Homo sapiens: one gene and its partners. The protein of the gene in region 3 purifies or fractionates together with the protein of the main gene of each other region. This does not show direct contact. Each region holds a gene or a part of one and is shown on either strand. Other genes may lie near its edges.

Region 1 (7,023 bases), on a different chromosome or scaffold from region 3:
TAATTACTTAGATATACAACTTAAATTAGAAAAAATGTAGAAAGGGGATAGAAATCATATAGTAGAGAAGACTCAATGAAGCTAAAACTTGGATCTTGCAAAAGACTAAAATAAAAATAGTCAAGTCTCTGGTAAAGGTTCTCAGGAACAAAAGAGGGCACAAATAAGACAATATTAAGGATGAAGAAAGTACACAGTCACAGATAACTGATTTAAAAGAACGTGAACAGGCCAGGCGCAGTGGCTCATGCCTGTAATCCCAGCACTTTGGGAGGCCGAGGCAGGCAGTTCACCTGAGGTCAGGAGTTCGAGATCAGCCTGGCCAACATGGTGAAACCCCGTCTCTACTAAAAATACAAAAATTAGCCGTATTAGGCGTGGTGGCAGGCACCTGTAGTCCCAGCTACTCAGGAGGGTGAGGCAGGAGAATCATTTGAATCTGGGTGGCATAGGTTGCAGTGAGTCAAGATGGTGCCATTGCACTCCAGCCTGGGCAACAAAAGTGAAACTCTGTCTCAAAAAAAAAAAAAAAAAAAGAAGAAAAATATTTAAAAATACAGAAACAAACATTTTTCACAGAAGGGGAAACATATAGCTAATAACAACATGAAATCTAACCTCATTAGTAATCTGGGATATGCAAATAATCATCTCTGTGAAATACTTTATGACACCCAGTAGATTGTCAAAAGTATTGGTCAAGATATTTGTCAGTGGCAGTACTATGGAAGACAACTTTGGCACTAGCTGGTCAAGTTAACATTTATTTACCTACAACTGAGTAATTCACTGCTTAGAACAGCAGTTCTTGGCTGGACGTGGTTGCTCATGCCTATAGTCCCAGCACTTTGGGAGGCCAAGGCAGGTGGATCACCTGAGGTCAGGAGTTTGAGACCAGCCTGGCCAACATGGTGAGACCCCGTCTCTACTAAAAATATAAAAATTAACCAGTTGTGGTGGTGTGCGCCTGTAATCCCAGCTACTCGGAAGGCTGAGGCAGGAGAATCACGTGAGCCCAGGAGGCAGAGGTTGCAGTGAGTCGATACCGTGCCACTGCACTCCAGCCTGGGTGACAGAGTGAGACCCTGTCTCAAAAAAAAAAAACAGCATTTCTCAAAGTATGGTCTGCAGACCCCTGGGATTACGGGTGGGAGCCACTGTGCCTGATGTGTTCCTGTTTTATTAAAGATTAAATTCTGAAGCAATAAAAGTTACAGGAGCTTGTCCAAGGTTGCACAGCTAACAAGTAGAAGGGTCAGGATGTGAACCCAGACAATCTGTCTCTAGGGCCCACACTTTTAACTACTAAGCTTATACCAATTGCTTTAATACCACCTGTTTAGCAAGCTTATTGTAATTAAAAGATACTGGGGCTGGGGGGTGGGTAGAGATGTCAGGTGCTATTGAGAGCTCCCAGAGAGCTGTATTCCCCCCAGAGTAGGGGAGGGTGAAGGGTGGGTAGGGATAGAAGTCTAGTGAAAAGGAAATGCTGTCCTCTCAAGAGTTTTTGGCAGTGTGTATCTTTTCTTCTAGAGACCATGGCGAGCCCAGGGAAAGACAATTATCGAATGAAGAGCTATAAGAACAATGCTCTAAACCCTGAAGAAATGAGACGAAGAAGAGAGGAAGAGGGCATTCAGCTCCGGAAGCAGAAGCGAGAGCAACAAGTGAGTTAATGGGAGTATTCTCAAACATACTATTCTGGGAAACAAGCCCCTATGGTTGGCCTCCACCATGCACCCTGACTTGCCCTGTAGAAAAGTAGCTTACTAGGTGGGCATGGTGGCTCATGTCTGTAATCCCAGCACTTTGGGAGGCCAAGGCAGGCAGATCACCTGAGGTCAGGAGTTCAAGACCAGCCTGGCCAACATGGTGAAACTTCATTTTCTCTACTAAAAATACAGAAATTAGCCGGACGTGGTGGCATGCGCCTGCAATCTCAGCTACTTGGGAGGCTGAAGCAGGAGAATTGCTTGAACCTGGGAGGCGGAGGTTGCAGGAGCTGAGTTCGTGCCATTGCACTCCAGCCTGGGCAACAAGAGTGAAACTCCATCTCAAAAAAAAAAAAAAAAAAAAAAAGAAAAGTAGCTTACTTACTGAGTGAGCTACTCATCCAGTTTCCTTTGTTGTAAATAAATGTTGGGAGCTTTGAGAAAGAGAAAACTGACCTTATCCCCTTTTCACAAGTTAGACCAACTTAGACATCATTTATGTCTTTACTGTAACATTCTAGTTCTAGTTCCTTGTTACCTTTTCTTTTCTTTTTTTTTTCTTTTTTTTTTTTTGAGACGGAGTCTGATTCTGTCACCCAGGCTGGAGTGCAATGGCACGATCTCTGCTCACTGCAACCTCTGCCTCCTGGGTTCAAGCAATTCTCCTGCCTTAGCCTCCCGAGTAGCTAGGATTACGGGCATGTACCACCACGTCCAATTAACTTTGTATATTTTTGGTAGAGACTGGGTTTCACCATGTTGGCCAGACTGGTCTCGAACTCCTGACCTTGTGATCTGCCCAGATCTGCCCGCCTCAGCCTCCCATAGTGCTGGGATTACAGGCGTAAGCCACCACGCCCAGCCTGAGACTATAATAATGCCTCACCATCTGCACTCCTACGCCACCCCGCCAACAGATTCAGTCACCTGATTATTATTATTTATTTATTTATTTATTTATTTATTTATTTATTTATTGAGACAAGGTCTCACTCTGTCACCCAGGCTGGAGTGCAGTGAGTGCAGTGAGTGACATGATCTCAGCTCACTGCAGCCTCAAGCTCCCGGGCTCAAGTGATCCTTCTTCCTCAGCCTCCTGCATAGCTGGACTATAGGCATGTACCACCACGCCCGGCTAATTTTTGTGGATTTTTTTTTTTTTTTTTTTTTTGTACAGACAGGGTTTTGCCATGTTGCCCAGGCTGGTCTTGAACTCCTGAGCTGAAGTGATCCACCTGCCCTGGCCTCCCAGAGTGCTGGGATTGCAGGCATGCGCCACTGTGCCTGGCCAACCTAACCTGATTTTGCCCACCCTTTTGCTATACTATCATTCCTTTTTTTCTTTTTTTTTTTTAAGACAGGATCTTGCCCTGTTGCCCAGGTTGGAGTACAGTGGCGTGATCTTGGCCCACTGCTGCCTCTGCCTCCAAGTCCTTGAATATCTTTTCCATGTTAGTAATCAATAGTCTCCTCTTCTCTTTGTGGAATACATTCCAGGACCCACAGTGGATGCCTGAAACTGCAGATATTACTGAACCTTACATATACTATGTTTTTTTTCATGTTTTCATCTTTTTACTTAAAGGAAGCACTTTACAGCTTCTCTTTGGCACATTTGAATTGCCAGCATCACTACTCTTGCACTTTGTGGCTATTACTAAGTAAAATAAGGGTTACTTGAACACAAGCAATTGCCACCTGATAACCAAGTTGGTTATTAAGTGACTAACTGGCAGCAGCGTATACAGCATGGAATGGATGCACTGGACAAAGGATGTTCACATCCTGGGCCAGACAGAACAAGATAGCGTGAAACTTCAACACTACTCAGAATGGCATGCAATTTAAAACTTATGAATTGTTCATTTCTGGAATTTTCTGTGTAATATTTTCAGACCACGGTTGACTGGATAACTAAAATAATAGAAAGCAAAACTGAATAAGGGGAGACTAATGTATAAAGCTTGGCCTCACTTCTCAGCTACTCTAGTATATCCTTGTCAGTTATGCCATAATTTAACATTGGATTGTTCTTTGTTTTCTTTGGTTCAGAGAGTACTCTTAACCACTGTCTCTTTACTTTCAGCTTTTTAAACGGAGAAATGTGGAGCTGATTAATGAAGAAGCTGCCATGTTCGATAGTCTTCTCATGGACTCTTATGTGAGCTCTACCACTGGGGTAAGGCCCCTGCATGTGCCTCAGGCTGACCTGGAAAACACCTGCTTCTAAGGACAGAAATTGGGCCGTTCACATCATCTACCAGCTTTGCCAGTAACCATGACAAGTTCTTTCCTCTGTGGACCCTTTCGTCAGCTTTAGGAGTCAACAAAGATTCAACTTTGTTAGATATATCTGAGGAAACATTTAAGAGAAGCCATCAGTTGCCTCAGAATTAGGAATCACTTTTCAAATGTCCCAACTTGAAGCACCTATAGATTAAACAGACCCCTTCTCCTGAGCCTATTATGCCATCCTCTTGCCCTCAGTTTTTTAGAAAACAGGATGCCAAGCAGTATTATGTGCTCACATCTGGCTCTAATGTTGGTTTGCAAAGTCCTAAACTTGTTTTATGTTCTAGGAGAGTGTGATCACAAGAGAGATGGTGGAGATGCTCTTTTCTGATGATTCTGACCTGCAGTTAGCAACCACACAGAAATTCCGGAAACTGCTCTCCAAAGGTACAAAGCCTGGCCCTTGTCAGAGAGGCCTTATATGATTTAGCCTCTTTTCTCTTCACTGATGTCATCAACTTACACGTGCCCTCACTCATTCTGCTCTAGCCCTACTGACCTTGGTGTTGCTTGTACAAGATAGACACATTGCTACCTTCACACTGGATACTTCCTCTGCCTGATGTCCTCTATTCCCAGATATCTTTGTAGCAACTCCCTTACTCCTATGATTAAATCCCACCTTCAACAGTTTTATCTTTTTACCTTGCCCTACATATTCTCCTCCTCTCCCCCCATTATATTTATCTTCTAACATAATAAAATGACTCTTCCCACTAGGATATAAACTCTCTGAGGGCAGAGACTTTTGTTTTTGTTCCCTCCTGTGTCCTCTGTACCTAGAACTGTGTGGCACACCATAGGTACTTAATAAAAAAATTTAATGTATGATTGGAAAAATACCTCTTGTTTCAGTATATCAAATAGTCTTCCCAAGAAGAGAGTACTGGTCTTTCTTGAAAGGGAAATGTGCAGACCATGGTTGTTCATCCCTTAGGTGGTTCTCTCTCCCACACCTTTCTTTGCTTACATTTAGTAAGCCAAAGATGAACATTCTTAAATTAGGATTGGCTTTACTCTTTAACATTCCAGCTGTATTATACAGTTCAAAGACGAGTAGATATTGTTAAAACCACCTTACCAGAAGGGAGTTTGGGAATGTTTGTAAGGGTGGTCAGAAGTGTCTAAGAAGGATTGCAAGCTGACCCCCATGAAGGGATCAGCAAAAGCTTCTCCTGTGTTTTTATTTTCCCTTCTCCCTTATCCAGAGCCTAGTCCTCCAATAGATGAAGTTATCAACACTCCAAGAGTGGTGGATCGGTTCGTGGAGTTTCTGAAGAGGAATGAGAATTGTACATTACAGGTGAGGCCTGAAGGGAAGGGGTTTGTTTTGTCTTTTAATTTTTGGGGGATACATAGTAGGTATATATATTTATGGGATACATGAGATGTTTTGACACAGGCATGCAATTTGAAATAAGCAAATCATGGAGAATGGGGTATCCATTTCCTCAAGCATTTATCCTTTAAGTTACAAACAATCCAATTATACACTTTAAGTTATTTTAAATTGTGTAGTTATTATTGACTATAGTCACCCTATTGTGTTACCAAATAGTAGGTCTTATTAATTCTTTCTGGGTTTTTTTGTACCCATTACTTATCCCCATCCCACCCCCAGTCCCCCACTACTGGGAAGGGGTTATTAGATGAAAGCCCTACTTCCAAGAAATTGCAGTGGGATACTTCTATTGACATATCTCTCAGGAAGTTCAAAAGTAATGTTAGGAAACATTCAGGAGAAACCATCAGTTCCCTCACAGCCAGAATCTCTTCCTTAAAACAATTTCAAAGGAAAGGCACCAGACTATGATAGACTGATCATTCAGTTATAAATCAGAGGCTATAGTCCACTACCTGTGTGACCTGAGGCAAATTGTTTAGCCTCTCTGGGTCTCTTGTTTCAGAGATGGGTGATGGGTCAATCCATTGGAACTTGCCAGAACTCAGCTGAAAGGGACTTTGAGAGACCCATTTCATTCTAATCCTCATTTCAGAAATGAAGAAAGTGAAGCTCAGGAAATAAAAGAGTGACCTGGCAAAGGATGCATGGGTGTTGTGGTAGTGCAGGACTAAACCTGGGACCCTGGAAGCCCAATGTCTTATTCTCATCTATATCACATCACTGCATCTTCCCACTCTCTAAAGACGGGAGGGGAAAGGCTTGTATTTTATGTGTGTGTGTTTTAAATTCGTGGGCAAGAGGCTTGCTTGTGTTTTGTGAGGTTTTGTTTTGGTTTTTTAAATTCATGGGCAGGAGGCTTACTGTTCTGAGCCAGCTGATAGGCATGGCTGCTCAGTCTGAAATGACCTTTCAATCATTGCTTAATCTCACTTTCAGTTTGAAGCTGCCTGGGCTCTAACGAATATTGCCTCTGGAACCTCTCAGCAGACCAAAATTGTCATTGAAGCAGGGGCTGTCCCCATTTTTATAGAGCTGCTTAATTCAGACTTTGAGGATGTTCAGGAACAGGTAATGCTTAGATTTGGTGTGATTCTTTATAGTACCTGTGGTATAATAAAAAATATATTTGGTCTTTGTCCTGGTTCTTGGCACAGTGTTAAAACTCTTGGAATTTCCTGAGTGATAGGGGTGTCAAGTACAGATGGCCCCTGGGACTTGCAACTGGTATCTCAAGTTGGGGCAGTCTTGTGGGACTAACCTGCGGACTCTGCATTAACTCTAGGTGTTAGAGTCAGAATTGAATTAAATCGTTGGACACATGGTTGGTATCAGAGAATGGGTGGTTGATGTGGAAAAAACTCTATACATTTGTTGTTGGAAGTGCCATTGGAAAAAAGACACCACAGTACCCATATCTGAGTACCCACAAATCATGGAGATAAAGATACAACTTCCATTTCTCCCATTGAATTCTTACTAGTTGGATAGAATTGGAGAGTGGTAGTGGGCTCTTTTATAGACTTGGTCCAAGGCAGCTACAAGAGTGCAACTTTCGCCAGGCGCGGTGGCTCACGCCTATAATCCCAGCACTTTGGGAGGCCGAGGTGGGCAGAT
Region 2 (7,533 bases), on a different chromosome or scaffold from region 3:
GAAATAATATGTTTTTAATTAAAAATAATAGCAGGAAAGGCACTTAGCTTACTATTAGTCTAGAAGTTGGTGGCAGGGCTGGAATTGAAATTTTAAGCCTCCTCCCTCTGGAAAACGGAAATTGCTAAAGCATTATGGTTTCCTTGTGCAGACCTTCAAAATCAATTATTAAACTTGTGACAATGACGTCACATCATCAAAGTGAATTTTTTTCACTGTTTTTAACCTGAGGGTCAGACATCACAACCACCTGCTTAACCAGCTTCCAGAAACACTAAGGATTCAGATGTCTGTTGCAACATGAAACTTGTCTTTGCTTATCTCGAGTATCTTTTTGGGTACAGCACAGAATGCTAATCTTAAGAAATTCTGCCTGCAGATATTTAGAATCATTTGGAAATTGATCATACAAGCATAAGTACATGCATTCCAAATACGTGTATGATTATTATCACAAATCTTCTCTAGGAAAAGAGATCGCAAGATTTCCATTAAACCTAAAATTGTTCCTTTATGGAACAGCAGAATGCAAAGAATGTTTTTAACAGTGTGTCAATAGAATGACTCGTACTCAACCCATAGAAACACCCCTTATCAGCAGCTCTGACGTGAGCAAGGGCAGAAGTTCATTAGCACAGGTGCCTGTCATGATCCACGCACAGGAACGGAATTCTCACAGAAGAAACACAACCTGTCTGCATATGCAAACAGTGCTTTAGTGAAACACAGGTGCTGGGGGATTATTGACAGCATATGACCCCAAGTGCAATCCATCATGTACCTCCATTTAAATACCAAACAATTCATGACCAGCCTGGACAACATGGCGAAATCTCCCCTCTACTAAAAAATACAAAAAGTAGCCAGGTGTGGTGGCATGTACCTGTAGTCCCAGCTACTCGGGAGGCTGAGGCACTTAAATCTGAGAATTGCTTAAACCTGGGAGGTGGAGGTTGCAGTGAGCCAAGATCACACCATTGCACTCCAGCCTAGGCGACAGAGTGAGACCCTGTCTCATAAATAAATAAACAAACAAACAAATACCAAACAAGGTAATAACTCTACAGAGGTCAAGAACAAAGCCACTCTCGGCTGGCAGTGCAAAAGGAGAGTGGCTTTGGAGTTCCATGCGCCCTGAACGCACCTCATTGTGTCTCTCCAGCTGTGTGACGGTGAGCAAGCACTCAACCACCTCAAAGCCAGCACTCTTGTCTGTGAAACAGAGACAATCACACCCACCTCACTATGCTGTCCCGAGAAGAAAGCAAGTGACCTGGCACATGGTGGAGGCTCCCTGCATTGCAGTTGTTAAGGTTCAACGATAATTTAATGAATAGAACAAAAGTTTAGCAAATATTATTGTAACTAAGCAGCTAATAAGAACATAGATAATACATAATGCATAATTAATAATACACAATCTCTTTGCTCACTTATTAATGCCTGTAGAATAGGGTTAGTGAAAAGCTAAAATAATTCACATAAAGTATTTTTAACATGCCTGGTAGATAGTAAGTGAGCAAAGAGTGAAGAAACAGAGGCTTGGGGAAGCTGAGACATTTTCCCAGGATCACAGCGGGTGGAGCTGTATCTCAGAAATGAAGCTCACAGTCTTAACTCACTGTGTAATTCTGCAGAGAATGTCAGGCTGCACCTTTGGCCCGGAGGGTGGCTCTCATGCCATTGCTGCCTTCCACCTAAGGAGGTGTTTCCTTAGACCTCCCTGTTGACAGCTTTCCTCTTTATGGCACAGTGTGGAGTTCTGACCCACTTCAGGGTTGTGCAGAGGGGGTCTGACAGTACTGTAATTCAGTAGGACTACTTGAGTATTGCAGAAGCTTGATTCCAACCGCTACAGCCCCTACATCAGGAACTTACTCAAGCCAACATTCAATCAACGGAGTTCCACAGTCACTGTGAATGCTCTTGGCAGTGCTGCCTGAGGTGAGGGATGGCAAAAAAGTAAGACACAGTTCCTGTCCACGAAGAGCTGGCTACTTCTTTTGGAAACAAGATGTACACAAGGAAGCATCTAGGTACAAAGCAGCATGTGACTCGTTCTGAATGAGTTCCTGTGGGGATCCAGGGAAGTGGCCGACGGGCCCAATGGAGCACTCATAGGACCCTCTAAGACCGGATGCCTACTGATGGCTAATCCCCATGTAAAGGCTCCTTTCAGGCAGGAAGTTCAGTTCTGCAAAATGTACCTTTCATCCATCAGAATTACAGCAACGAGAAGGTAAAACAGAAAAGACCAAACCCACAAAATAAAAAGGTCTGAAAAACAAAGCTTTTTACTGAGAAGTGCCTCGCAGTCAGAAGCTTTGCAGAGTACCCTTGAGAGCATCCTTTACTACAGCTGAGAAGTACCTTTCTGTCACAAGGTACACACTCAGAGGCGTCCTGGCAGCTGGAACCTGCTAATGCAGTCAGGAACTGGCAATGTGCCTCGTACTGCAGGCAGCATTTGCGACACTCCTCAGAAAAGGCCTTTAGAGTTTGGCTTCCCCAGAGAAGCCCAGAAGTGTATGATAAAGAAGCTTGCTCCTAGTGGTGTAGAATACATACTTGCCCCCAAGAAGCTATACTCTGCCACAAAATCACAAGAACAGGCAAGGATGTTGATTCTCATCAACACGCACATGGTGTAAGATGCTTGGTACCTTATCATTGTTATAGCTCTGGGCCCATGATGAGTCATTATGGTTGTGCATTCACAGACATGCCTTTGTAGCTGAACAAGTTAAAAGCAGGTGGCTCATGCCTGTAATCTCTGCACTTTGGGAGGCCAAGGTGGGTGGATCACTTGAGGTCAGGGTTTGAGACCAGCCTGGCTAATATGGTAAAACCCTGTCTCTACTAAAAATACAAAATATTAGCCGGGAGTGGTGGCAGGTGCCTGTAATCCCAGCTACTTGGGAGGCTGAGGCAGGAGAATGGCTTGAACCCTGGAGGCGGAGGTTGCAGTGAGCTGAGATGGCGCCACTGCGCTCCAGCCTGCGCGACAGAGTGAGATTCCGTCTCAAAAAAAAAAAAAAAATTAAAGAAAGGATGTTTGCCCATCTGAAGCAAAGTATTGACTGGACTTATCTAAATACCGGATTACAAGAAAAAGAGGAACTGGCTATATCAGAGTGAGAGAAAGTGGGAGAGGTTGAGGAAACATACAAGAACCTAAAAGAAAGGGCAATAAGTATGAGCATAGCTTTGCTAATCTCGGAAATGGTGGCCAGAACTGTCCTGTGGTTTAGCAAATGATCATAGCCAGCAAATCCTAATTACCCTAGAAGCTTCCTTTAGAAGTGCCACAAAGATGTAGGAGGTATGCTTATCCGCCTTGTGACACAAAAATGGAAGCATAGTTAATAGATGAGAAAAGCATGACCCAGAATGATTTTCAATATTGGAATGCTGGGAATTTATGAGAGGTATTTTCGCGTAAGAATAATAGGACTTGTTTAAAAGGATTGGAGAGTGGGGGGCATCCCAGATGCGTGAGAAGCAGTATAGCTAATGGTTAGAAGCAGGTTTGCTGGAGCCAGGCTGCCTGGGTTCAAAGCCCACCTCTGCTGCCTGTTAGCTTGTCAGCTGCACAACCACGGGGTGCTTTCGAGCCTTGTGTGCCTTTGTTTCCCCATGCACTTCATGAGGCTGTTGCAGAAATTAAACGAGTTAATATATAGTCAGCAGCTCTGAACACTGCTTGACTGAGTCAGCCCTACCTAACGTTTAATTTAAGGGATGTGGCCCTGGGTTCCCAAAGGGAGCGGCCACTCTATTCACAAACATAAAAGCAGTAAAGGCTCCATCCTCATCAACCTTCTCCTCAGTTGGACCCCACAGGACTGTCTCTCGCAACTGTTCCCTGGGCTCTCCTAAGGCACTGCGCGGAACCAGCTGCACCTCTTTTGCCTTAGATCAGGCTTTCCCTTCTCCGCCCGTTTTGGGATTTAACAAGCACGAGAAAGCAGGGCTGCAGGGAAGCCGCGAGGGCCTCCTCACCACGGCCCGGGATCAAGTCCCACGCGCGAGGCCGGGGTAGGGGCGTCATCTGCTCCACACCCAGAGGCTGGGCACGCCCCGCACGCGCGGCTTCCTCCTCCTTTGCGGGGCTCGCCGCGACCCAGGACCCCCAGACTCCCGGATCCCCTAGACCCTCTGGACTCCTAAGCCCCGCAACTCCCAAATCCCAAGACCCCGGACCCTCCAACCCTGGCCCAGGGCGCGTGGCTGGGGGCCTGAACCCGCTCCAGAAACCCGCAGGGCAGTCTGTCGGAAACCCCCGCTTTACTCAGCAGGAATTTAGTCTCCGCGCTCCCCCTAAAACCCGGGCGTCCTCTCCTCTGTACCCTCGCTCCTGAGGCCCTCACACGCCCTCCGTGGCTGACCTCCAAGCCGGGCGGGTGCGCTGTGCGACGCGGAAAGCGCCGTAGAGCACGCAGAACACGATTGGCTGAGCTCCCGGAAGTGACGTACCTCAACCGCCCGACAGTGGAAGTCCCACCTGCGCCCGACGGCGGAAGTTCCGGGAGTGCCAAGTACCCGCGTGCATACGGCTGCCGGCATGGCACATTACAACTTCAAGAAAATTACGGTGGTGCCGTCCGCCAAGGTAGGCGGCCCCGGGAGGGCCACTGCAACTTTCGCGTTCTCCTCAGCTGGGTCCCCGGGGAGGGTCCGGGCCTGTAGCCGTGGGAGAGCGGTCGCCTTCCGCTCGCCCATCCCCCGCTCCTGGGCCTGACCGTCTGGCCGCGTACTCGGGATCATTTCCCCTCCCCCAGCAGAATCCGGGGTCCACCAGAGATCGGATCCCCCAGAGACCGGGGTCCACCTAAGACCGTGGTCCACCCAAAGACTGAGGGCCCCCAGAGATGGGGGTACACCCAGAGTTGGGTTCCCTGGAGGGGCCCCGGGTGACGATGTGGGCGAGTGGAGGGGGACCCCGACATGTGAGGGAGGAAGCGTTCCGTGGTCCGTGATGAGCCTTCGGATTCTGGGTTTGGCGTAGCCCCCTCCCCTCTCAGGAATCCTGGGTTCGTTGTTCTCGTGATTTAACGTTTCATAATTTTTAAGTCATTCTCTTTCACTGTTAGATTTGGGAATACCTGTTCCTTTTCAGACCATAGTAGGCCCAGACTAAATTTTTACAGCGTTGGTTGGTGTGGCAAGAATGAGTCAACAAGTGTTGAGTATTAGGACTTTTTTTTTTTTTTTTTTTTTTTGAGACATAGTTTTTCGCTCTTGTTTCCCAGGCTGGAGCGCAGTCTCGGCTCACTGCAACCTCCACCTCCCGCGTTCAAGCGATTCTCCTGCTTCAGCCTCCCGAGTAACAGGGATTACAGTCGTGCACCACCACACCCAGCTAATTTTCGTATTTTTAGTAGAGACGGGGTTTCACCACGTTGGCCAAGCTGGCCTCGAACTCCTGATCCCGGGTGATCCTCCCGCCCCGGCCTCCCAAAGTGCTGGAATTACAGGCGTGAGCCACTGCGCCCGGCCCTAGTATTAGGACTTTTAAGAAGTCACGTTTTTATGTAGTGAACATTCGATTTGGGTCGCAATTACACAGACATTGACGGGCAACTGGAGCCTCCCAGGGACTCCTGCACGAGAGGGAGTTACTGAAGTCCCTGCAGAGTGACTGTTTTCCCCTCGTCAGTGCCTCCTTTTCTTCAGGTCTCAAGGACGGGATGAGCTTGCCTTGGAAAGCTTTGTGGGAGTCTCGTATTTTACCTTCATAGCAAAAGTTGTTTCCCCACTTCTCTCCACCATTTCTTATTTCTTCCTGACAGTTGTTCTGGCACATCTCTTGATCGATTGTAGTATTTTCTTTCTTTCTTTTTGAGATGGAGTCTCGCTCTGTTGGCCAGGTTGGAGCGCAGTGGTGTGATCCTGACTGCAGCCACCGCCTCCCAGGTTCAAGTGATTTTCCTGCCTCAGCCTCCCGAGTAGCTGGGACTACAGGCATGCGCCACCAGGCCTGGCTAATTTTTGTATTTTCAGTAGAAGTGGAGTTTCACCATGTTGGCCAGACTGGTCTTGAACTCCTAATCTCAAGTGATTCACTTGCCTCAGCCTCCCAAAGTGTTAGGATTACAGGCATGAGCTACTGTGCCCAGCCAGATTGTAGTATTTTCGAGTGCAGGAGTCATGTCTTATTTGTATTTTTGGTCAACCATCTCTCAGGTTTGTTGAAGGAATTTGCTCTTTGGATTATATGAACTTTGTTCATGTTATTGACTTATGTGGAGAACTTTAGAATATATTATACACCATCCGTCTTCTGTTCTGTGGAGTGAGATTTATATTTTTAGAGAACAGATGACTTATCTAAAAACTGGGTGATGGTAATTGTTTGGTGATTGGAAGTAAAAAAAAAAAATCACATCGGGAAAGTGTGGTATTCAGTTCATTCTAGAAGATGTTGAGTGAGTGCCTGTCCTGTGCATCGGGTACTGTGTTACAAAAATGCATTAGATAAAATACCTGCCTCTTTGGAAGTCATTTTCAAGAGAGGTAAGTCGAGGCCGGGTGCGGTGGCTCTCGCCTGTAATCCCAGCACTTTGGGAGGCTGAGGCGGGCAAATCACGAGGTCAGGAGATCGAGACCATCCTGGCTAACACGGTGAAACCCCGTCTCTACTAAAAATACAGAAAAATTAGCCAGGCGTGGTGGCGGGCGCCTGTAGTCCCAGCTGCTGGGGAGGCTGAGGCAGGAGAATGGTGTGAACTGAACCCAGGAGGCAGAGCTTGCAGTGAACCGAGATCGCGCCACTGCACTCCAGCCTGGGCAACAGAGCAAGACTCCATCTCAAAAAAAAAAAAAAAAAAAAGTGGGGTAAGTCATATCTCGTATGACCATACTAGAAATAAAACATTGTTATCATGGAGGACACACATGGATTGGGAGAGGAGAAGAGTGTGGTTAGCTGTGGTAAGTTGGAGAGTCAGGGGGAACCTTATGAAGTAGGTAACCTTTGACTTGGTCCCCCTTCAGGATGTGCGAACGGCATTAGGTGCAGAAGAACGTAGAGAAGATCTTGTGTGGGCCCAGAGGGGAGACCGTGTGTGCCCCTCATAGTACTTGGCAGACTGTTGTGACCACCCGTTTACTTGTCTCACTTGTAGGCCCAGAGGGGAGACAGTGTGTGCCCCTTATAGTACTTGGCAGACTGTTGTGACCACCCATTTACTTGTCTCACTTGTAGGCCCAGAGGGGAGACTGGGCGTGCCCCTCATAGTACAATACTTGGCAGACTGTGTTGTGCCCACCTGTTTACTTCTGTCACTGGACCCTGAATTCCGTGAAGGAAGGGACAGTATCTTGTTCATTATCCTCAGCACCCAAGTATCCCTAACAACCTTTGTATGAAATAATATTGAGTTAATCAAATTGTTGAATTAATCAAAGTGTTCAAGAAAAAAGGTCAAGTAATATTGTGTGGCTAGATACATTGGATTTAGGAATCCTGGGGATCGGATCCTTATTAAAGAGAAGTGCTGACTCTTTGCACTGGGTAACTCATGCAAAAAT
Region 3 (7,204 bases):
ATAGTTCTCTAAATTACTTCATGATGTCAATCCTGTACCTCCCCAGTAAGGTTATAAAAAGGTCTGGAAACCCCAATAAGGTTATTAAAAGGTCTGGAAACCCCAATGAGGTTATAAAAAGGTCTGGAAAAAAAATTGTATCTTACATTTCTTATGTGTTCTGTCAATTATAAACAAAAATGTATCTTATACCTAATAATAGTAATGATTATGACAAATACTTATGTTTCCTAGATGCCAGGCACTATTCTAAGCCCTTTACACTTATTAACTCATTTACCATAAGATAGGTGCTACTATTATCCACATTTTACAGGTGAGGACAATGAGGAATTTGTCAGATTTAAGATGGCCACAAATTCTCCGATGATTCTCCCATGGGGTAGTGGAGTCTAGGTCTCCTTCCCTCCTGCACAGGCTCTGCCTTAATCAGATTCTGTGCTACAAAGCTGTGCTCATTTCCCAGGCCCAGGCCTTTAAAGAGCTAACAGCTTCCACTTCCCATCTTTCAGAACAGTGGCTATGGAAGGCCTGAGCCACCTGTAAGATGCCCAGCTAGAGAGAACACATGGAGACAGAGAAGGGTTCAGCTGGCTCCCAGGAAAGCCATCCTGACCTCTCCAGGCTGGCCCCTCCTCCAACTGAATGCCACTGAGTGATCCCAGTTGACACCACATAGAATTGAAGAATTTCTCAGCTGACACCTGCCTGAATACCTAACCTGCAGAATTATGAGATAAAATAGTTTTTGAGTCACTAAATTTGGGGGTAGAGTGTTACACAGCAACAGAAAACCTGACCATATACAGAGAAGATGGTCACACAGCTAAAAATAGGTAAGTAATAAGGGACAGAGGTGGGATTCAGAGCCAGGGAATCTGACACCAAAGCCGCATTCATAACCACTGTTTCCTTTGATCGGAATCAGCTGCCTCTTCAGTCTACTGCCTATGCCTGATTGTCCAGGTAATCCCACAGACAAGCTTTGCATTAAGGAACTGCACAATTCAGGACTAAGATGTGCTACACAAGGTGTTATAGCGTGAGAGAAGGAGCAGAAGGTTCTCTTCCATCTTTGCGACTAACTCACCTAGTGACAAGCAGTAAAAATTTTCTGTGGTGAAGACATGGACTCCATCTGTCTTATTGAACAATGTATCTCTGGTGCCTAGCAGAGTGTCTTTGACATAATAGGCACTCAATACATATTTCTGGATGGATGAGACTCTGGGCCTCAGTTTTTCATCTATAAAAATGGAGAGGTCCCCTATTGGACTAGATGATCTCTTTTAGAGGTTTTTTCCTAGTTCTAAAAGCTACAAATCTATACAAGGAATGTGATGGTGGAAAGATGGTATGAATGGCGTCAAAAAATGAAAATATGGGGGGAAAAGAAACAAGAAAAAGTTTAGATCAATGTGAATGAAGAAATGCTTCTAAAGAAAACAACAGCCAGAATGGAATTTCAACCTGCAGAGAGGACTCCTAGAGCAAAGGCCCCTCAATTCTACCAACAGGTCAAATACTACTGGATAGAATTTGTGGATGTTTTTTCAGCAGTGCCATTAATAGATTACTTCTCCAAGGGCCCACAGTTCACGCACCTTAAAGTCAAGCTTACCTCAGAGGGCTCCTAAGGAGTCTGCCCATCATCATACTTTCCAAATGGCTTACTTGTAGCTCCTCACCTCCACCCTACTCATAAAAGCACTGGCTTGAAGCAACAAACCTGGAATCTTGTCTTAGCTTTATGCTGACTCTTATCATACTGGGAAGGCCAATTGGGTTAAACAGATACTGTGTGCCTAACATGTGCAACAGATTGTCGCGAGGATGGAATGCTGACAAACGGAACAGATGTGTTCCCTACTCTTCACAGGCTCTGTGTCTCAGTTTTCCATCATTCACTTAACTTTACACAATGCCCATTATGCGCTAGGCACTGAAGGTACGATGGCAAACACATCAGATACGGTCATCCATGTCTTCATGAAGCATCAGTCTAGTGGGAAAAACAAGTATCGTTGCACTGTACCAGAGTTATTTTTTATTTTTTTCCGAGACGCAGTCTTGCTCAGTTGACCAGGCTGGAGTGGAGTGGTGTGCTTTCGGCTCAGTGCAACCTCCACCTCCTGGGTTCAAGCGATTCTTCTGCCTCAGCCTCCCGAGTAGCTGGGATTACAGGCATGCACCACCACACCCAGCTAATTTTTGTATTTTTAGTAAGGACGAGGGGTGGGGGTCTCACCATGTTGGCCAGGCTGGTGTCAAACTCCTGACCTCAAATGATCCACTCGCCTCAGCCTCCCAAAGTGCTGGGATTACAGGCATGCGCCACCACACCCGCCTAATTTTGGTACTCTTAGTAGAGATGGGGTTTACAGGGTTTCACCATGTTGGCCAGGCTGGTCTCTATCTCTTGACCTCAGGAGCTGCCTGCCTCGGCCTCCCAAAGCGCTGGGATTACAGGCGTGAGCCACCGCACCCAGCCCTGTACCAAAGTTATTAAATGGAGGAAGCAGAAATTAATTTGGGAGGGAGGGTCAGGGAAAACTTCCTGGAAGACACATCTATGCTGAAATGTGAGTTAAGTTTGCCAGACTAAAAAAATGAGAGGGCTCACTTTCTTTGAGTATTCAGGAGGACAAACAAACAAACAACAACAACCAAACCCAAAAACAGTACGAGAGCACAAACAAGACTGAAGTACACATATGTGCCCTGAACACAAAAAACATCTTGAGCACCCTGCTTTTAAGCCTCCTGGCCATTCTGTCACTTCTGTTGGAAAGTATTTCCCTCCTTGTCCATTTCTGTGAATTCCTTCTGTTATGGTTAAACTGTTCCCCCAGCACTCCAGAATGTGATTGTATTTGGAGATCAGGCTTGTAAGAAGGTAATTAAGTTAAAATGAGGCCATTAAGGTGGGCCCTAATACAACCTGACTGACGTTCTCATAAAGAGGAAATCTGGATGCAAAGAGAGACGCCAGAGATGTGAAAACACAGAGGAAAGACCATGCGAGGACACAGCAAGAAAGCAGCCACGTGCAAGCCAAGGAGAAATGTCTCAGAAGAAACCAAACCTGAAGACACCTTGATCTTGGACTTCTAACCTCCAGAACTGTGAGAAAATAATAAATTTCTGTTGTTTAAGCCACCCAGTATTTTGTTTGCAGTCCTAGCAAACTAATACACCTTCTATTCCAGGCCCAACACTGCTCACTTTCAGAGTGAAACCTTATCACCCATATACACACACCTTGGGAGTGAAGGTTTCTCACAATACTCTGTGCATCCTCCACTCAACTTTCATTCATTCATTTAAGCAACAAACACCTAGTGACCACCACTGTGTGCCAGACCCTGTTTTAAGGGCTGAGAAGAGCTAACGTTTATTGAGTACTTACTAAGTGGCAGCCACTAGTCTAAGCGATTTACATGCACCAACTCATGAAATACGACAAGGTTCCAGGGACGCAGGTGCCGCTATGACATTCGCTTTACAGATGCGGGGCTGAGGCACAAAGAGGCCACACCGTAATGAAACTGAGCTAGGCTGTGGGCTCTGTCGTCTTAAGCGCTACTCTCAACTACAGCGTGGAAGGAAACAGAAGCCGAGAGATGGGCAGCGCGTAGCGGAGGCGGGCCGGGCTGGCTTCCAGCGGGCAAAGCCTGGAGATGAGAGGGCGCGGGTGGGGTTTCCAGGCCGAGGAAGCTGCACCAGGGAGAAGGCCCGGCTCCCAGGCCCGGAACCTGGCCGTCTGGGTCTCAGTCCGCGTCCCCTGTGATGCCCGGCACAGAGCAAATGCTCGCTGACTCTCGCAGGAGCCGCCAACCCCCCGGGTATCCTCGAGTGCCCAGAGACGGGAAGGAGCGGTGGGTCCATGCCCTTCTGGGCCACCTTCGGGCGCCCGGCCTCCCTTCCCTTCCGGGCCATTCCCACCAGCGCCAGCCCCGCACGCCTTCGCAAGGCCGGCCACCTTACCCTCGGAGGCCGCTCTCTGCCCCGCCGCCTACTCTTCACCTGCAGCAGCTGCCTTCAAGGCCACTCGCAGCGATCCGCTGGCCGCGGAATCATCACGACAACGCCCCCTTGGCTTGCCGGAACCGCCTTCCTGCTTCCGTTGGCGTCACTTCCACTGGGGGGGGCGTGGCCGCGGTGCGCAGGCGCGCTGGGTGGTTCAGAAGCGAATTCTGCACCGCGAAGCCTGAGAGGCAGGTAGCTGCGGCGCTGGGCTGGCGGCGGCGAGTCCACGTGCTCCCCGCGGCCGGTTGAAACCGTTGGCGGGCGCTGGCTGAGAGGTGAGGGGTGGTGGCCCAGAGGTCCGACCTGGGAGGCTGGGGCTCAGAGAGTGAGTAGGGGAGGGACGGGATTTCCACCGTCAGCCCCTCTGGGTTACGCATGGAGGAAGGAGTTCCATTCAGATCTCACTCCTGCTCTGGGGAAGTGGCAGGAGTCCTGGACTTAGGGTGACCAACTCGTTTTAGTTTTAAAACTTAAGGTCCGGCGTCCTGGGAACTCCCTCGGGCCTGGCCAAACCAGGACGATTGGTCACCGCCCGACTGGGCTTCAGGCTTGCTGCATGTTGGAGACAGGGCTCTTCTCTGAGCCTTGGGAGATCAGTCCCTAAAGAGGAGGCCTTAGGATGTAGCGGTCCAGAGCACATACTTAGGATCAGAATAACTACTGCGTGTGAATCTGGGTTGCCACTACCTGGATGTGGGATGACCTGGTGTAAGTTTTTTAACCTCTTTGCGCCTCACTTTCCTCATCTGTCATAACATATAGAATCTAACTCGGAGAACTGTGATGAGGATTACATGAGTAGAAATGTGTTAACCTCCTATGAGAGGGCTTGGGTGCTCCATGAATGTTAGGATTCTCTGAAGCACCTACCTCTGAGGAGAGAGGGAGGAGGATGAGGTGGGGTCTGTATTTGCAACCCTGATTTCTAGCAGAGAGGGCCCACTTGGGACTTACTCACACTGTGCCCGAGGCTCCCAGGGTCTAGCATAGTGCCTGACACATGGTAGTTACTCGAGTGAAGGGATGGTGTTTAAAACAGTGCTGGTGATGCCGTGGGTGGGGTAGGAGGCAGAGAGAAATGGCTTCTGTGCCTCAGTTTGCTCATCTGTTTAGTGGAGATAGGTGCACCTACTTCCCAGGGCTTTTGCAAGGAACAAGGGAGAGATTCTCTCCTTGTGAATGTCACCCATTGTAACCCTTGTCAGCCTCATACACAAAGGTTTAGGCAGGATGGTGGACAGAGTATGTTTGTCTGTCCTTCTCTTGCACCATACCCATGGTTTCTCAGAATGCTACCCGTGGAAGGGGCTTGAGTCTTGTCAAGTTGGCCTGACTTCTTGTTTCACAGATGAGATAACTTGAAGTTTATAGAGGCAGTGGCATGCTCAGGGTCACAGTGTTCAGTGGGGGATATCCTGGGGTTGCCAGCTAGGCCCCTCAGGTGGGCTGTTTGAGTGGTAGTGGTGGTAATGATGTGTAGGTCAGTGTCTGCATGTGCATGCAAGAATATTTTAAGAATAGTCAAGGCCAAGCGCAGTGGCCCGTGCCTGTCATCCGAGCACTTTGGGAGGCCGAGGAGGGTGGATCACCTGAGGTCAAGAGTTCACAACCAGCCTGGCCAACATGGTGAAACTCCGTCTCTACTAAAAATACAAAAATTAGCCGGGCATGGTGGCATGTGCCTGTAATCCCAGCTACTGGGGAGGCTGAGGCCGGAGAATCACTTGAACCTGGGAGGCAAAGGCTGCAGTGAGCCGAGATTGCGCCATTGTACTCCAGCCTGGGCAACAGAATGAGACTCCGTCTCAAAAAAAAAAAAAAAAAGAAAAAAAATTGAATAAGTAATACAAAAATATAGAGGGAAGAAGATTTAAAAAAAATCATTCCAATCTCAGAACCAAACCTAAGGGCATGTTATCAGGGAACTTGGTAAAGTAGGCAGCCATGGGGTGAGGAGCCAGAGAAGGTTGGAGTGAATTTATGAACATAAATGGGTGGGTTGATGGTCATATTTAAAGGAGCATGGGTTTAGGAGGGGGCTGGGTATAATAGCATTGATGTGCAAATTAGTAGGTCACAGAGAAACCTTTCTACAATTGGGCAGGGATGAAGCTTTCATATCTGGTGTCTTATTTAACTTTCCACCCAATGCTTTGAGTTAGGTATTAGATCCATTTTACAGATAAACAGATTCTGGGAAGTTAAGGTGCTTTGAGGTCATTTAGTTTTTAATGACTTTTTTGACATTAGCAGATGTAGGCTCCAGCTCAGATCCTCTACACCTGAGTCAGGGCCCTGTCCAACAAAAGCTGGCAACCATCTTGTTAAGAGAAGACTAACAAGTTCCCAGCCCCTTAGTGACCACTGGCTGCTGCCCCTCAGCTAGCTTTGCTGTCCAGACCCTGACAGCCTCTCCTGTGACATGGGTGGTCTCCTTGCCCACTGCACAGAGGTTTTATAATTAAGACTTAGGGTTCTAATATTTATACATGGAAAGTCATCTTATAGAGACCTTAATTTTTTTTCTCTTTGGATGAGGACCTCAAGGTCCCAGGTGCTGAGTAACCACCAAGCAAACGGCTAGGACATGGCAGGTCAAGATGGAGGCAGGGTGGGAGCCTGGGCTTGCTGCCTGGTCTTTCAGGCCACCTCTGCCACTTACTGTGACTTCGGGCAGTTCACTTACCCTCCTGAGCCTTAGGTTTTCTCTCCAGATGGAGGTAGTATGATCATAGCAGTCTTAGTGGTATTGGGGGCAGTTGTGTTCATAAATGGGACACGGCTTTGTAGAGAGCTAATGATCATGTGTTCTATGGTGCAGACCCCGTCATCTTTTTCATGGGTATGGCATGTGATGAGAGCTCAGTAAACTGACCATACAGACAGACGAAGACGCAGCCAGGAGCACACGCAGAGGACCTGCGTGAGGGCCCCAGGTGTATCTGGGTGGATAGGATAGTGTCAGCATTCAGGAAATGTCTGCCGAATTGAGTTAAAGTGACTGAGCAAGAACCGAAGTATGCTCTCAACCAGTCCAAGAACACTGCCTTCTGCCTGCCTTTCTCTTTTAACATGCGCATGTGGCCAGAAGGAAAGCATGTAGAATCTCTCTGGCTGCGCTGGGACTGGACATTGGGCAGAGGGAGTTGGGGAGCCAGGGAAGGAAAAGAGGACT
Region 4 (7,023 bases), on a different chromosome or scaffold from region 3:
ATGTAAATATGATGGAGTTTTGAAAGAGATAGTAGCACTTATTTTGAATGGCTAAGCTCTCCTCTGTTCTCTACCACAGAGCCAGCTCTAGTGGCACTTTTCAAATAAAAAAAAGTTTGCCAAGTACAGATTGCAAATCTAGATTAAATTTAAAATTTAATTACAAGCTCACGCCTGTAATCCCAGCACTTTGGGAGGCCCAGGCGGGCAGATCACCTGAGGTCAAGAGTTCGAGACCAGCCTGGCCAACACAGTGAAACCCGTCTCTACTAAAAATACAAAAATTAGCCCGACACCGTGGCGCACGCCTGTAATCCCAGCTACTCGGGAGGCTGAGGCAGGAAAATCATTTGAACCCGGGAGGTGGAGGTTGCAGTGAACTGAGATCATGCCACTGCACTCCAGCCTGGGTGACAGACTCTGGCTCAAAAAAAAAAAAAAAAAAGCACACCCAGGTAAATTTTGTTGTGGGTACTCTATCACAATTTTTTTTTTTTAAGAATTGCTTACCCAGCTTTTCCCAAGAATAATTTTTTTTTTTTTTGAGACAGAGTCGCACTCTGTCTCCCAGGCTGGAGTGCGGTGGCTCGATCTCGGCTCACTGCAAGCTCTGCCTCCTGAGTTCACGCCATTCTCCTGCCTCAGCCTCCCGAGTAGCTGGGACTACAGGCGCCCGCCATCACGCCCGGCTAATATTTTGTATTTTTAGTAGAGACGGGGTTTTGCCGTGTTAGCCAGGATGGTCTCGATGTCCTGACCTTGTGATCCACCCGCCTCAGCCTCCCAAAGTGCTGGGATTACAGGCATGAGCCACCGCGCCCGGCCTGAACATGCATTTTTCAAAGGTAGTGCTTGTGCTCCTGGTTGCCAAGTCCCAGCACAAGCTTGTTTAGCCTATCTGTTGCCAAATGCTTCAGTAAGGGTTTCTCTTACTAGCAGATGTAAATGGCCAAGTCAGGCAGTGTTGTTTGGCTGCAGACTTATGTTTAGTTTCTCTTCCTGCCTAGTTTGACTATAAGGCTGTTGCTGATCGACTCCTGGAAATGACCAGCAGGAAGAACACGCCCCACTTCAACAGGAAGCGCCTCTCCAAACTCATCAAGAAGTCAGTAACTGGGGAGAGGGTTCTGACATCATCATTCCTTTAGTTCTCATCTCCTGGTGTGGGACAAGCCATCTGCATGCTTATCTTTTTTCTTTCTTCTTTTTTTGTCCTTTAATGCTTTTGTGTATAGCAATGTAATAGACACATGTAAACTGAAAAGCTTAATGGAAACAGCAGTCCCACCCCTCAGGTTCCATTCTTCCAGTGCAGCCATACTCATCTCTTAGCTGCTTTAGAATGATGTGAAGTCTATTCATGTCTAAAATGAACCAACCAGAAACTGATGTGAATCTGCTATTTAGGTGTCTTCTGCTGGTGTGCTGCTGAGATAGATAGGGTTAATTCTTTACCTCTCCCCTCCCTCCCATATGGCTATGCCAAAAGTGTTAGTTAATTCAGCTGTCAGTGTTGATGTCACTCTGACCATAGTGACATGATGACCTGGAATTCATGGAGGGCCTCGTGTGGCTTGCTGTCATTGGTGACAACAACTGTCTGATCACACTCTAGGAGCCGGGCACTGCTCTGAGCACTTTGTATACATTCAAGTATTCCATGTTAAGCCCCCAGAAAGTAGCTCCTGTAGTTTTGCCCATTTCCCAGCTGGTTCTTAGGGCACAGGATGGTCCTAGCTTGCCTGAGGTCCCTGCCATCCAGTGTCTCCTCCCCCATGCACCTCCCCACACTGCGCTTCGATGCGTCTTGTTTGTTCTAATGCACAAAAATTGTGTGAAGCAAAACATGGCTTCGCCTTTCTCCACTGGAGAATTGAATATGAGAGAGATCTAAGCTATTTCTGCCTTCAGAAACAAAAATTGAATTTCTTAGTTTGATTTGGGTGTGCCAAGATGCATCTTTGGCCCGCCGTGTCCTTGCTGGTATTGATGGTAACCGAGGGCGGCACTGGCCTTGAGCTTTTTGGCTTTTGTATTGCACCACCCTTCCCTCACAGAATTTCCTGTCTAGCCTCCCCTCCTGGAGGAGAACGTGAATTAACAACTATTTAACTATGGCTTGTATTTTAAAAATCAAATACATATGTCTACAGAAGACAGAAGGGATTTCTTTATGAACATTTGTTATTTTTTTATTTTTTATTTTTTATTTTTTTATTTTTAGATTCCAAGACCTTTCTGAAGGTGAGGCGCGCCAAGAATCATCATTCATGGTGTTTTTCGTGAATATGGACCCCACTGGGGGCGTTGATGCCAAACGCTGAGAAACAAGATTGAAAGAACTTTACTGAAAACCTCTGATAAGAAATAATAGTCCCTAGCCCAGGCAAAATAGCAAGGCCACATCTCTACTAAAAATGAAAAAATTAGCCAGGCGTGGTGGCGTGATCCTGTAGTCCCAGTCACTTGGGAGTCTAAGAGGGGAGGATCGCTTGAGCCCAGGAGGTCCAGGATGCAGTAAGTTGTAATCACACCACTGCACTCCAGCCTGGGTGACACAACAAGACCCCAACTTTTAAGAAAGACAGACCAGCCCTTACCTAGTCATACCGCAGTACAGCGTGGGAAGTGATGCAAGCCTAGGGCTCCCTGCAGCCTGCCCACCTTCCTATCCTGGGCTCTCCCTAACCACCAAAGCAAGAGGGCAGACTGCTCTCATGTGTGGGTACTGCGATGTTTTGGTTTGGTTTTTATTATTTTAACTAGATGGATTTTCAATGGCCTAGGAAGGTTTTAATTGGATACTCTATGAAGGTAAAAAATGTAATTTCTCAGGATCCCTTTCATTTGCTCTTATGGTCAATGGTCCCCCCGGGAAAGGCTGATGCTGTAAGCTTTGTTACATTTGGACAAGTCAGTGAAGTTACCCCATACCCGTCATTCACTAGGGACACTTGGAATTGGGAAAGGCACCAGCAAGCTGGTTGGAATGCAGAGACTGCATTAGCCAAGCGTCCGGGGTCCAGCCATGGAGGGTGTCACCGAGGGCTTGTGATCCCTTGCCTTGCCTTGGTTGAGAAATCCACAAAGCTTTTTTAAGTCTGTAATTCCTGTGTCAGCAGCGCTCAGGTTTGGGTGGGAGAAACGGTGAGGAACGATGATGATGAGGCAGAAATTGGGAGGGGTGCTGCTCTTAGGCCCCTGGGGCAGAGTCTTGAGCGCCTGGGGAAGCTAACAGTGTGTCACTCTGGCATCTAGGAAGCAGTATATCTCAACTCAGTTTTGCGGAGGACATTTCTGCTGATGAAGATGACCAAATCCTCAGTCAAGGAAAGCATAAGAAGAAAGGAAATAAACTTTTAGAGAAAACTAACTTGGAAAAGGAGAAAGGTAAGCTGTAAAGCTAAAAAGAAGGGCACGACTCAGCCCTTGGGGAGCGGCATGCACCATGGAGGCCTCGGAGACTTGAGCTCGTGCCGTCATAAAGCATTAGCAGAGCCCAAAGCTTCAGTCTTTAATGGCTGAGAGGTAAAGGCGGTTTTCCAAGTGTTGTGCTGTTTTTGGTGGAGCCGCGTCCCCACCTCACCCCGCTCACGTCCGCCTGCTCTCCAGGGCACCTCTGCAGGGAAGCAGGAGCTGCAGGGAGCACTGGGGGGCGGCTGTTTGATGACCACTCGAGATCTATGGTTTTTACCCTTGAGCCCTAAAATTAGTGGAAATGGGACTATTTCAGTTCCATATGTGTTTATAAACGGACAGAAGGAAGGCTTCCAGTCACAGTTGGGGATGGAGGAAGTGGGACCAGACGACAAAGGTAGTGGGCGCACCAAGTACCTCAAGGGAGACAGGAACTTTCCTCGTGGTAGAATGTCAGGAAATTGCGTCCGCCAGTCATACTGTCTGAGAATCGCCAGCAGGACTCTGGCCCAGCTGGCACTGGGTGCTTGTTGATGGGTTTCTGTCTTTTTAGGAAGCAGAGTCTTTTGTGTAGAGGAAGAGGACAGTGAAAGCAGTCTTCAAAAGAGAAGAAGGAAGAAGAAGAAGAAGCACCACCTGCAGCCTGAAAATCCAGGCCCAGGGGGTGCAGCCCCATCCCTGGAACAGAACCGGGGCAGGGAGCCCGAGGCCTCTGGGCTGAAAGCCCTGAAGGCACGTGTGGCCGAGCCAGGTGCAGAGGCCACGTCCAGCACTGGGGAGGAGAGTGGCTCCGAGCATCCTCCAGCCGTCCCCATGCACAATAAAAGGAAACGGCCACGGAAGAAGAGCCCGAGGGCCCACAGGGAAATGTTGGAATCAGCAGTGTTGCCCCCAGAGGACATGTCTCAGAGTGGCCCGAGTGGCAGTCATCCTCAGGGACCTAGAGGGTCCCCGACAGGTGGAGCCCAACTCCTAAAAAGGAAGCGGAAACTTGGAGTTGTGCCCGTCAATGGCAGTGGCCTGTCCACGCCGGCCTGGCCTCCATTGCAGCAGGAAGGCCCTCCCACAGGCCCCGCAGAGGGGGCGAACAGCCACACCACGCTGCCCCAGCGCAGGAGGCTGCAGAAAAAGAAGGCAGGGCCCGGCAGCCTGGAGCTCTGTGGCCTGCCCAGCCAGAAAACAGCAAGTTTGAAAAAGAGGAAGAAAATGAGAGTGATGTCAAACTTGGTGGAGCACAACGGGGTGCTGGAGTCCGAAGCTGGGCAACCCCAGGCTCTGGTAAGGTGGGAGCACCCACAGGCCAGCTCGCCACAGAGGCACTCACTCGCGTCCATGGGGCTCCACTGCCTCCTGAGAGGAAGGGTGGGGGCTGGCGGCCAGGCCTCTGGACTCAGCAGCAGTTAGAATAGGGTGTGTTCATAACAGCCTTCACTAAGGAGGAAATCACAGGTGACCAGTACTTCGGTCCTCCTCATCGGCCACCTTCACTCCCTTAGGCCACATGCTTGGGTTCGGGAGGGCCCACTCCAAGCTGGGAAAGTTATCCCTTGGGCCAGGCACTCCTGCCCCAGGCGTGTTCAGGCCAGTCTAGGCCTCTGTCAAAGGCAGGTCTGGTTTTCTTCATCAGCGCATGGCCAGTCCAGGCCCCTTTGGCAAAAGAGGAAGCCCAAAATTCTCTTGCTTCACTCACCTTCTTTTCTATATTCTTTTCTTTTCTTAGCTTCCCCCCTACCCCCCAGCTCAAGAAACTTCACTAGCAGGACCACTTATCTTCTTAATGGAAAGACTTTCCTTCCACTTTGATTTCTAGAGCCAGATATAAATGAGGAACCAAGCTGTTGATCTGGTCTTGGGTCTGGCTGTGTCACCCAGGCTGGAGTGCGGTGGCACAATCTCGGCTCACTGCAACCTCCACCTCCCAGGTTCAAGCGATTCTTCTGCCTCTGCCTCCCAAGTAGCTGGAATTACAGATACACATCACCATGCCCAGCTAATTTTTGTTATTTTTGTAGAGACAGAGTTTTGCCTTGTTGCCCAGGCTGGGCTCAAGCAGTCCACCTGCCTCGGCCTCCCAAAGTGCGGGATTACAGGCGAGAGCCCCCGCGCCTGGCCCTGATCCGCTTTTCACACCACCTCTGGGCGCCCTGGGCTTCCAGGCCAGGGCCGGCAAACGTAGTGTCACTGCAACAGAGCCACATCCACTTGTATGTGCAGGTCTGTGGCCACTTTCATGCTGCAGCGGCAGAGGGGAGTGGTAGAGACAGAGACCTGCGGTCTGTAAAGCAGAAAATAACTCTGCCCTTCACAGAGTTTGCGCACCTTGGTCACCTCTTGGTTTGCACACACCGCTTTGCGGAGATTATGACATCTCTTGTTTAAGTGGACATGTGTGGACCTGGTGAAGCGCTGGTTTGGGGCTAAGAGTGTCTGCAAGTGGCTAGTGAGTGAGTTTATGGTCAGGAAAGCCTTACCCAGGGGCAGCAGTGCACTGAGCTGGACGGCAGGAGGCCCATTTCTAGCCTCGAGTCTCTCCTACCTCACAGTGCCGCCATCTCCTCCCTGGACTGCAGCCTGCCCCTCGTACCCTCAGCGCTGCTCCCTCACTAAGAGGGCCAGAGACATTGCCTTTCTTGCTGTCGTCTCAGGCCCCTGGCAGCCTATTGTAAAGAGGATGGGGTGTTGCTCAATAAGTCCCAGGGTCAAGGGAAGCTTTCCCCTGCCATCTGTCATGGCACAGGGAAGGCGCACAGGAGAAGCTCCTCGGGCTTCCCTGCCCTCCAGGCGGCACACTTGAACCTGCCGGAGCCACCCGTGTGTCGGCAGCGGCACTGGGCTGCCCACACCTCTGAGAGCCAAGTACGAGACCCGGTCTCTCTCTGGGTGGCTGTCAGTTGCTGCACACGCAATGAGTGTCCTGGGCCTGCCTGTGAGGGACCCACAGCCCCACATGGGCATCACTGTCCTCCACACCAGACTGCCAGCGCAGTGACGATTCAGCTACAAATGGGAGAGTCGATCTTATTAACAGATCGGCTTTGAAAGGCCAAAATCCCCATTTTGAAGATGAAGATAAAAGTGGGTCCTTACTCTGACGAGGCGTTTTCATCGCCCCTCTTGGCATGGTGCCATGATAGCGGTCGTGTTGTGCGTGAAGCCTGAGCTCTGCCGAATGGAAGGGCTGTCTGCAAGTGCGGTGCGGAAGACCGCGGGCCGTCGGGTGGGCTGGATCTGCCTGGGGCTCTGCCTTCCCCTCCTGTGTGTGTGGGCAGCACAGGAGGCTCTGTCGTCTGACCCCTCCTCCGCTTCTCACCCCTCGCTCACGTAGGGAAGCAGTGGGACTTGCAGTTCCCTGAAGAAGCAGAAGCTGAGGGCAGAGAGCGACTTTGTGAAGTTTGACACCCCCTTCTTACCAAAGCCCCTGTTCTTCAGAAGAGCCAAGAGCAGCACTGCCACCCACCCTCCAGGCCCTGCCGTCCAGGTACGCACCCTCCCCAGAGTGGCACAGCACATTTCACCACAAGGGCACAGATGGGCTTGAGCTGACAGTGCTTCCCATGCCGGGCCTGGAGCCCCACTGTGGCCCTCTGAGCCTGTCCACAGTGGACA

Evidence for each region.
Region 1: the proteins of LYAR (region 3) and KPNA6 purify together in Homo sapiens (co-immunoprecipitation; 2 studies listed by BioGRID and IntAct, with this or other methods). This does not show direct contact.
Region 2: the proteins of LYAR (region 3) and GTPBP4 purify together in Homo sapiens (co-immunoprecipitation; 3 studies listed by BioGRID and IntAct, with this or other methods). This does not show direct contact.
Region 4: the proteins of LYAR (region 3) and RRP1B purify together in Homo sapiens (co-immunoprecipitation; 3 studies listed by IntAct, with this or other methods). This does not show direct contact.

Annotation. Positions count from the first base shown.
Region 1 is NC_000001.11:32,153,055-32,160,077, forward strand, and holds part of KPNA6 (importin subunit alpha-7), read left to right. Parts: intron 1-1,533; coding exon 1,534-1,667; intron 1,668-3,798; coding exon 3,799-3,891; intron 3,892-4,291; coding exon 4,292-4,391; intron 4,392-5,212; coding exon 5,213-5,307; intron 5,308-6,345; coding exon 6,346-6,477; intron 6,478-7,023. UniProt on the Homo sapiens protein: Functions in nuclear protein import as an adapter protein for nuclear receptor KPNB1. Binds specifically and directly to substrates containing either a simple or bipartite NLS motif.
Region 2 is NC_000010.11:983,916-991,448, forward strand, and holds the start of GTPBP4 (GTP-binding protein 4), read left to right. Parts: upstream 1-4,518; 5' UTR 4,519-4,564; coding exon 4,565-4,612; exon of another isoform or gene 4,613-5,033; intron 5,034-7,533. UniProt on the Homo sapiens protein: Involved in the biogenesis of the 60S ribosomal subunit. Acts as a TP53 repressor, preventing TP53 stabilization and cell cycle arrest.
Region 3 is NC_000004.12:4,287,136-4,294,339, reverse strand, and holds the start of LYAR (cell growth-regulating nucleolar protein), read left to right. Parts: upstream 1-4,185; 5' UTR 4,186-4,304; exon of another isoform or gene 4,305-4,737; intron 4,738-7,204. UniProt on the Homo sapiens protein: Plays a role in the maintenance of the appropriate processing of 47S/45S pre-rRNA to 32S/30S pre-rRNAs and their subsequent processing to produce 18S and 28S rRNAs. Also acts at the level of transcription regulation.
Region 4 is NC_000021.9:43,683,546-43,690,568, forward strand, and holds part of RRP1B (ribosomal RNA processing protein 1 homolog B), read left to right. Parts: intron 1-1,007; coding exon 1,008-1,105; intron 1,106-2,224; coding exon 2,225-2,244; intron 2,245-3,258; coding exon 3,259-3,390; intron 3,391-3,970; coding exon 3,971-4,695; intron 4,696-6,742; coding exon 6,743-6,895; intron 6,896-7,023. UniProt on the Homo sapiens protein: Positively regulates DNA damage-induced apoptosis by acting as a transcriptional coactivator of proapoptotic target genes of the transcriptional activator E2F1.